Linked DNA regions of Homo sapiens: regions 2 and 3 are each linked to region 1. Evidence: fine-mapped expression QTL. A gene starts in region 1. Each other region holds a variant in brackets. All regions are shown on one strand. Distances are between the middles of the regions. Region 1 holds the start of NPR2 (natriuretic peptide receptor 2). Region 2 has its middle 4.3 kb from the start of OR2S2. Region 3 overlaps RGP1 (RGP1 partner of RAB6A GEF complex).

Region 1 (2,758 bases):
AGCACCCGCAGTCAGCAGGGGAAGGCGCCAGTGGGAGGCAAAGCGGGCCACAGAGGCAGCAGGGTACACGCAACCGGGACCTAACAGCAGGTCGGGGTCATGGTACAGCTTGAGGTCCACAGCGCTCAGCGGTGCCAGGTACTCAGAGCAGGCGCCTTCCAGTTCGGAGCTGACAAACCGCAGGTCCACGGGCAGTGCCCGGCCCAGAGCCTCCACAGCTAGTGCCACAGCGGGTCCCACCCGTGGCCAGGCCCAGGCATAGCTCAGGTTGTGTTCTGGCAGCACCACCGCCAGCGTCAGGTTCCGCGCCCCGGGAGGACGCACCCCACCTGCCAGGGCTGCCACCAACAGCAGAAGTGATGGCAGCGCCATGGGGATAAAGCAGCAGCCCCACCGCCCCCAGAACTTGGGGCTGCTCTGGCCTACAGGGGAGACGCGAGCACCCCCCAGCCTGGAGCCTGGGGAAGAGGGCCAGGAAGAGGAGGAGTAGGCTAGGTAGGCTGGGATGCAGAAGGTGCTGGGGGCCGGGGAGAGGAGGGGGAGATGGGAGGAAGGCGGGGGGCGGGCAAGGAGTGGGCTACCAGCCTAGGGCAAGGACTGAGGACTGAGAACGGGGTGGCAGGGGGAGGGAGGGACCGAGGGGGCCTGCGGCCAGGATGGGGACAGTGCGAGGTGAAGAAGCCTGATAAATCTAAAGCTGAGAAGGAAAAGGGGATCTGGGACTGGGATGGGGTGGGGGTGGGGGGCGGGTGGTACAAAGAAACGGCCTGGGGGAACCTCACAGCTGAAAGGGCCGGGAGGGCAGGAGGGCGCTGCGCCACATAGGACCAAGGGGGTAAGGTGGGAGGGTGCCCGCGCCGCGGAAGGACTGGGATCATGGGCAGGCGGGGAGCGAAGCGAGGCCTGGGCCGGAGGGCAGGGGAAGGCAGGGGTAAATCTCCCTGTGAAGGATTCTCCCGGAGCTCCTGCTTGGACTAACGGGCCCGGGCGCTGGTCCCATCCGGAGCTACGGCGGCCCCGCCCGTGTCCCCGCTCCTCTCTGCTCCGCTTCTCCTGGGCCCTGGCGGCCGGCGCTGCCCGGCGCTTCCTCCCGCCCCCCGCCTGGGCCCCGCGCGCGCCGCTCGTCCGGGTCAGGTCGCCTCGGCCCGGCCCGTCTCCGCTCGCTGCGCCGGCGGCCGAGTGCGACTCCCCCGGGCAGGCCGCCCGCCCCCGCCCCTCCCCCGCTGCCTCTCCTCCTCCCTCCCGGCCCCACCCTCCGGCGCCGGCTGCCTTCCCCCACCCCCCACCCGGGCGCTCGGGACCGCCAGGTCCCAAACCCACCCCGGTGAGCACTTGGGGGCTCCGCACCAAGGCCTCGCCGGCCAGCAGGGTTCCCGGGCGCTCCCTCACTCTCAGGGCCTACCCTGGTCTCCCCCACGCCCCTGGTCCCCCTGCCGCCCCTCCTTCCATTTCCATCTCACACACGCCAGCGACCCCAGGGTTTGTCCTCTCCCCCTCGCTCAGCCCGTTCTTCTTGGGTCTCCCCTCTGAACTCCCTGAGTCCCTCAGTGGTTCCAGTCTCCAGGAAGCAGTCGAGGATCCCCAGACGTGTGGTATCCTCACCAGCCCCCTCACCTAGCAAACCATAGCGCCCTCCCGACGGCAGTGCGGCTTACTCCACCGCGGACCATGCCCGCTCCCTGGACGGGCCCCTCCAGCAGCCAGGGGCCCCTGCTGTACACTTCCCACCAGTCCTTAGAAAGTCCACGAGGCTCCTTCTTGCTTGGGACTCAACTCTCGGCCCCCCGCTGTCTCCATGCCCCCTGCCCTCCTCGTGTCCTCAGAGGCCCACCGCAGCCCGCCCGGCTTCCTCCGCACCATCTGCTCAGTCAGGGCCTCGATTTTCTTTTGTCTCCTGCACAGCGCAGGCTGGCGCCTGGGGAAAGCCTGTAACGGACCGGCGGGACACTCCCCGCAGTGGAAGCCCATCCACGCTCTCCTGGGGTTCCACCTTGCTCCCAGCTTCCCTTAGGAAGCTCTCCCTAGGGCCCTCATATCTGGAGTGCCAATCTGACCCCAAGAACAGCTTGTGAGGGATGATCTCATGGTGGCTGAGAGGGACTGCTATGGGACCTTGGGGATTTTTCTCCAACTGTCATAAAGGACATGCACATAAGCCCATTCTCTGCCCGCGCTAAGAGCCACGGTTTCTCTCCCCCCTTCAAGCTATTTCTCCAGAAATCACAAGCTAAGAGCGCTCCTGGAGCCCTGGAGTGGGGTGGGAGTGTATAGGGCGAGGACGGGCATGGTTTCCCTGAGATGAAGGCGACACCTAGTGGTTTGGTGGGGGAAATTAAGGACAATGCCACTTTATCCTTAGGCACGATATTTATTGAACACCGGCTGCCTAGCACAAGCTGTACCTGTGAATACAAAGAAAGCCGAATGATACAGCCCTTACCTTTGAGGAACATGCATTTGCAATCCCTGGGGCACAGAGGCCAAGAGCAGGCCGTCCCTAACAATGTTCTTGCCTCAAGCCCAGTAGAGATGGAAGCCTCAGGACAGCTCCTTCTTTAACGCAGAGGGGTTGGTAACTCTAGTTCCAGGCTCCCAATACTGCAGTGAAAAGGAATTTTGTCCTATCTGGCCAAGGCAAAAAAAAAAAAAAGGAACAGTCAAAAGAATGACGAGACAACATGAGAAATACTTTAGACCAAGTCAACCAAATAGAATAGTTGATTTTTAAGCAACTACACATTGTTTTATGAGACAAGCA
Region 2 (2,758 bases), 160 kb before region 1:
ATTTCACTATATTGTGTTAGTCTAAGGTTCTGATTTCTACTTGCCCTAGAAGAGAAACGATCTTGCTACTGCAGATACACAAGAGTGACATCTAGTGGCCATGCAAGCCAACTTCAGACATTTACAGAGCCATGTCGTGTTTTTAGAGGCAGCTGCACAGGTCTCTTTCTTCACCGCTAACTGCATAGTTCATGGAGTTTCTCTCCAATATCCCTGACCCCACTCATCCAGCATCTGCTTGGATACCTCCAGTGATAGAGAATTAACACTTCCAGGTTCTAGCTGTTTCATTCAGCCCTACTAGCAAATTCTTCCTTGAATTGTGCTAACATATACGTGTCTCCATTAACATCTGTCTCCGATAGCATCTTCCAGTCCTAATTCAGCTTCGTGCCTTTACATGAAATACACCTTATCTCTTCTTTCTTCCGATATATAAAGATTGTTCTCCTGGTTCCTGGGTCTTTTTCCCTCCAGCATAAATAGCCCGCATACTTCCACCTGTGCCAAAATCACCCAGTTTACCCAACTGACAGGTACTAAATTGTGTCCACAGTATCATCTAATTCCAGTGTGATATTTCTGAAAATACCTTGGGAATAATAATGATGGTGCTAAGCTAACTCTGTTTCCCCAGGGCAGTGGAGATCTGTCTGGCAGAGAGAGATACTTGAACAAGCCTGCCTTCTTGTGAGGCTGTCCTCCACTCACTTTCTCTTCCTTGAGGAATGGCAGTCATATCCATTTATATTATAAATTACATTATTATAGTGTAACTGTTGAGTCAGAAATTACATTGCTTCCTCTAGGAACAGTGGCACCTTTCACTCCCACTCTCTTTTGGGTGTCAAGGGGAGGCAAAACTATTATATTATTATACTTAATCATACAGACAAATGTATTATTTTAAAAATCACAGTTCTGGGTTAGTGGGTGCTTTAGGCTTTTACTCTAGTGACCAAATGCCCTACGAAATCTTTAAGTTAAAACTCCAAATATAAAGTATATCTGCTTTGGCTGAAATGGAGGTGGGGGGCAGAATAGATGTGGGGGCCAGGGGAGGGAGTTGGGCTCCATCTGCTCAGCCCACCCTTCATCCCCATCCCCAGGGTCCCCAGTCCACAGACACCACCAAACACTAATCTGATCCAAACCACTGGTGCCAAGAAAAGTAGACATTTTGTAAGGATATTTTGTTCCACTCCCAGAAATAAATGTGAAAATTTGGGGGGGAAATTTATATTCTAAGAAAAAACAGATTACCCAGTTAACC[A/T]TTAAAAAGATAGACAACTTAAAATACCAATTACCTAAGGAGAAGTTGACAACTTGTCAGTTACCACCTTAAGATGTTCCAGGCCATCTGTTTCCACAGATGAGTGGTAATAAACATTCAAGGAACAAAAGGTTTTTAATACTGTTTAAACAATTTCAGAGAATAAAGTGAGAAAGATATCTTCCAAATTGCTTTAACCAAGCCAGCATAACATTGATGCCATACCATTAAAAACATAACAAGGAAGTACAGGAAATGAAAACACCACCTTTTCCTTTCCTATCTCATCTATTTACCTACGTGTGTATGTATGTAGATGCACGCATACATATAAAATAGAATTCAGCAGCACATAGAAAGAATACTAAACCATAGCCTAATGGACTTATTTTTAAAAAATAAAGCTAGAATAATTTAAGGATATGTCTTGGTATAATTCTCTACGTTTATAGGTTAAATAGATCCTCAAAACTATTGAAAAAGTTGAACATGAATTTCTTAGTTTTAAATTCCTTCTAATAAAATAGGAATGGATGTGTTCTTTAATAAAATTAAATTTATATCTCTAGTGAAAAGTATGTGTCATGCGTAATGGTGCATCAAATCAAATCTGTTACACTTTAACCCTTTTCTGGATATACCAACCATTGAATTAGAGAGTAGAGATAAATAAATAAAAGGTGAAACTAGAAGAAAGGTAAAGAATAATTTTATTATTATTGTTAGCTGATACACTCATAATTTTATACCTGGATAAAACAGTAAAATCAATCAAAAGGCAATTTTGAAAAACAGTAGGAGAATTCAATAACGAAGCTGCATAAAAAATTAATATGCAAAAATCCAGGTTCTAGAGGGGAAAGGGGGAAAACGGAAGGGGGAAAGAGGGGAGGAGAGAGAGGGGAAGAGAAAAAAGAGGAAGAGAGGGTGAGAAGGAGAAAGGGGAGGAGATTTGGGGGAAGAAAAAGGAGGAAAGAGAGAGGGAAAGATGAGGAAAGAGAGAGGGAGAGACAAGGAAAGAGGAGGAGAGGGAGAGACAAGGAAAGAAGAAGAGAAGAAGAGACAAGGAAAGAGGAAGAGAGGGAGAGGGAGAGAGAAGGAGAGAGATAGAGAGAAACCGGTTGTCTTGGACTCTTGAGTCTTCAGCAGCAGTCATCACCGTCCTCCCTACCAGCTAAACAGGGCCTTTTCTCATCTTCTAGCTTGAGGCAAAATCTGCCTTTTTCTCCACAGTGATGTCATAAGAAAAGATCACAGTCGCATAACTTGTCCCCTTTCTAGCAATAAGAACCCGCATATTTCTTTCAGGGGGAAAGATATGGAAGAATTTTTATAGGGACTATGCAGCAAGATTTTGAAATAGAGATTTCAAGTGGTTTATCATAGAAGGTATCTAGAACACAATCCTATAGGGATTTCATGGATCATTATCAATTCTCTGTCTGTCCCTAATCAGATTAAACTGTGTTGTTGAGAGAAGGGGTG
Region 3 (2,758 bases), 34 kb after region 1:
GCGTTTTCTTGTAGGAAAAGTAATGGAAACATAAGCATCTTTTTCTAATCACAGGAAAGGTTAAGGCTTTGGTGAAAGCAAGCATAACTGAGTTTAAAAACAGTCTAGAATAAGAAAAGGGTAATAGAAGAGGAAGGAAGGCAGAAGTGGACCATGCAGAATAAACAATCAAGCCTAGCTTTTTTAAAAACCTGAGGTCTTACTAAAGAGAAAGGAGGAAAAACGGAAGATTTCAACATAAGAGTGTTAAAGGTGGAAAAGAGCCAGAAAGGACTGTGGGCTTAAAAAAAAAAAATCAGTGAAGCAGTAGTGGTGTATGTTGGCAAAGAGAAGTGTAGAGTTGAGAGGAGGGAGAGAATTTATAGTAGAGGAAGTCGGTGTGAAGTTTTCCTCTCAAGATGCCCAGCAGAGCAAAGAAGGAATGAAGGCAAAGGCCACTGGGAATAGAGTAGGGCTGGGGCTAAAACAGCACGGGAGAGTGCAACAGGGCCCAAAGTAAGACATTTTCTTTTCTTTTCTTTTTTTTTTCATTAATTGACCCAGATTTGCTTGTTTGGGACCAAAGGCAATGCAGAGTTTAGGGATCTTTATAATTTATAAAGTAATCACCTTTGGCCCAACATAACACAGATCATAAGGATCATGGCAGAATTCGTCTCTGAGACAAGTACAAAATACCATTTTAGAGTTGATTTTAGAAGAGAAGTCAGACTAATAAATTGCTGTGTTGTAGAAATACTATGGTGAATTAAACAGCTTTAACTTTTTCTATCAGCCACAGGATAAATACAGAAACTGTATAATTACATACACATCCACAGAAGATAGTAGCCTCATATGCTAAAATTGTGAGTTGTTTGTCTGTATACTGTAGTCCAAAGCTCCCATTCCAAGAAATGTTTTATTTGGTTCAAAATATAAAGGGCAGGTTAGAGGGCTACACAGAAAAAAGGCTAAAAATAAAGACAGTAAAATGAGGGAGAGGAAAAGTGGAAGTGCAGCACTACTGATCCAGAAAAACTGAGGCATCAGCCACAAAGAATTCAATCAAGTCAGTGAGGGGCAAATGGCACAAAAGCCAAACAAGAAAAAGGCTGAATACCATATTACCAATCTGAGAGCCTCACTTTTGGTTTTAAGTCAAATATTGAATTAGATTGTGCAACTTTTCTATTTTTATTTTTTTATTTTTAAAAATCCACCAAAATTACTTAAATCATTTGACAGAGTCATACAATTTTAAATGACTATAAAAATGTGCAGATCAGTGCCAAATTTTTTGGCAAAGGCTGAATGGCAGACAGTAATCCAAGACGCAGACAACCTTGCTTTTAAGCCATCCGTTACACAGAGACCAGCAGGCTCCCTTCTACCTGTGAGACCAAATAATCCCAAAATGTAACCAAATAATCATAACTCCCCCTACTCCTAAAACCTACCCTTCACCCTTCACTGTCTACGTCAGCCTCTGGACAGACCTGATGCCTGGGGTTTGGCCATTTCCGCCTTCCCACCCTGTGTTGGTCTCCCTCCTCCCTCCTCAGGTCCCTCAGTTCTCCCAGGCCTAACTTGGCGTGCTTCCTTCCTCTCTCACCCCAATCAATCCGGCTCTCCTTCCCTTTCTGGGTT[A/T]CGCCACCTGCCCGACTCCCGGTTTCCCCCTCGGGGGCCCCTCCTTGCCCTGGGGTCTGCTCTCGGCCCGCCAAGTTCTCCCAGGGGATCCCTCCCCACCTGCCTCCATACAGTCAGACTGTGTTCAGTGTCCGTTTCGCGCCCGTAGCGACACCACGACAGAAGCCCACTAAGTGACCCTCTGCTCCCAGAAACCCTCCTGGCTCCTCCAGACCCTCCGGGGCTCTGGCCCGCAGCTCCCCTCTCCCTCCGGCGGCGGGGGTCGGCTGTGACTCACCAGAGGGCCAGCGGCCGGGGTTGGGGTGGGGGGGCCGGAATGCTCTCACTTCCTCTCCGCGCACCTGCCCCGAGGCTGGAGCGCCGCCCGGCCGGGCCTCCGGCGGATGTTTTCCTTGTTCCCAAGCGTGTAGTGCGCGCCAGCCGCCCCCTCCGGGACCTGCGCGCCAGCCACCGCGCCCCCAGGACCCAGCGGGCCTGGTCCTCACCACTCACCCCCTCCCCAGCAGGCACGCATGCGGGCTCGACCCACACCTCTGCACCGCCCCCCAACTTCTGGGAGAGGACTCCTGGCTCAGCCCAGCCTCTAGCTTTCCAGAAGCCCCTATATGCCTACCTCATCTTCGTTATAGGCGATGAACCTTCACTTCTGTCCCCGTTTCCGCACACGCACCAATCCCCACTGGCGATCCCTTCCCCTTCGGCATCACCCCCACCTTCATGCGCCCCAGCTCCCCACTCACATCCGCCCCCTATTGGGCTGGCTCTAGCTTGCAAGAGCAGAAGGTGGCCCAGGGCCCAGCCTTCCAGGATGTCCCCTGGACCCCCTCTCTGGGAAAGGCGGCAGAGCTACTGGCCACTGACAAGACCTTTGGGCCCTCGTGCTAGACAGGCCTTCGAATCCACCTGCTCCAGCCCAGAGAGCAGGCCCAGGCCGTGCCTCCCACACCGCAGCCGACCTCAGAGCACCCTGCCTCAACTGTGAGTTTTTTCTTGGCAATCCTCTGAAACGGAAAGGGTATCAGTCCTGACTAGGGCGAACGTGAGGTCCATTCTGCATCTCCATCCACCTTAGCTGTCTCCTTGGAAAAGGACAGCAAGGGAGTTTGAGGTGCACTGACACAGTCATTTC

What was found. PIP is the estimated chance that this variant, and not a neighbour inherited with it, causes the effect.
Region 2: its variant is fine-mapped to the expression of NPR2 in adrenal gland (GTEx, PIP 0.99).
Region 3: its variant is fine-mapped to the expression of NPR2 in whole blood (TOPMed, PIP above 0.99).

Annotation. Positions count from the first base shown.
Region 1 is chr9:35,790,023-35,792,780 of GRCh38, reverse strand. NPR2 (natriuretic peptide receptor 2) reads right to left here and starts at 1,190. Exons shown (of 22, transcript NM_003995.4): 1 at 1-1,190. The coding sequence starts at 372. It also overlaps a transcript of RGP1 not described here.
Region 2 is chr9:35,952,462-35,955,219 of GRCh38, reverse strand. No RefSeq gene overlaps it. Among named protein-coding and RNA genes, the nearest start is that of OR2S2, 4.3 kb to the left of the region's middle. RefSeq lists an enhancer at 2,758. The variant A/T (reference allele first, on the strand shown) is at 1,274.
Region 3 is chr9:35,756,346-35,759,103 of GRCh38, reverse strand. RGP1 (RGP1 partner of RAB6A GEF complex) reads right to left here. Exons shown (of 9, transcript NM_001080496.3): 9 at 519-2,758. Among named protein-coding and RNA genes, the nearest start is that of MSMP, 3.4 kb to the right of the region's middle. RefSeq lists a silencer at 1,788-2,107. The variant A/T (reference allele first, on the strand shown) is at 1,630.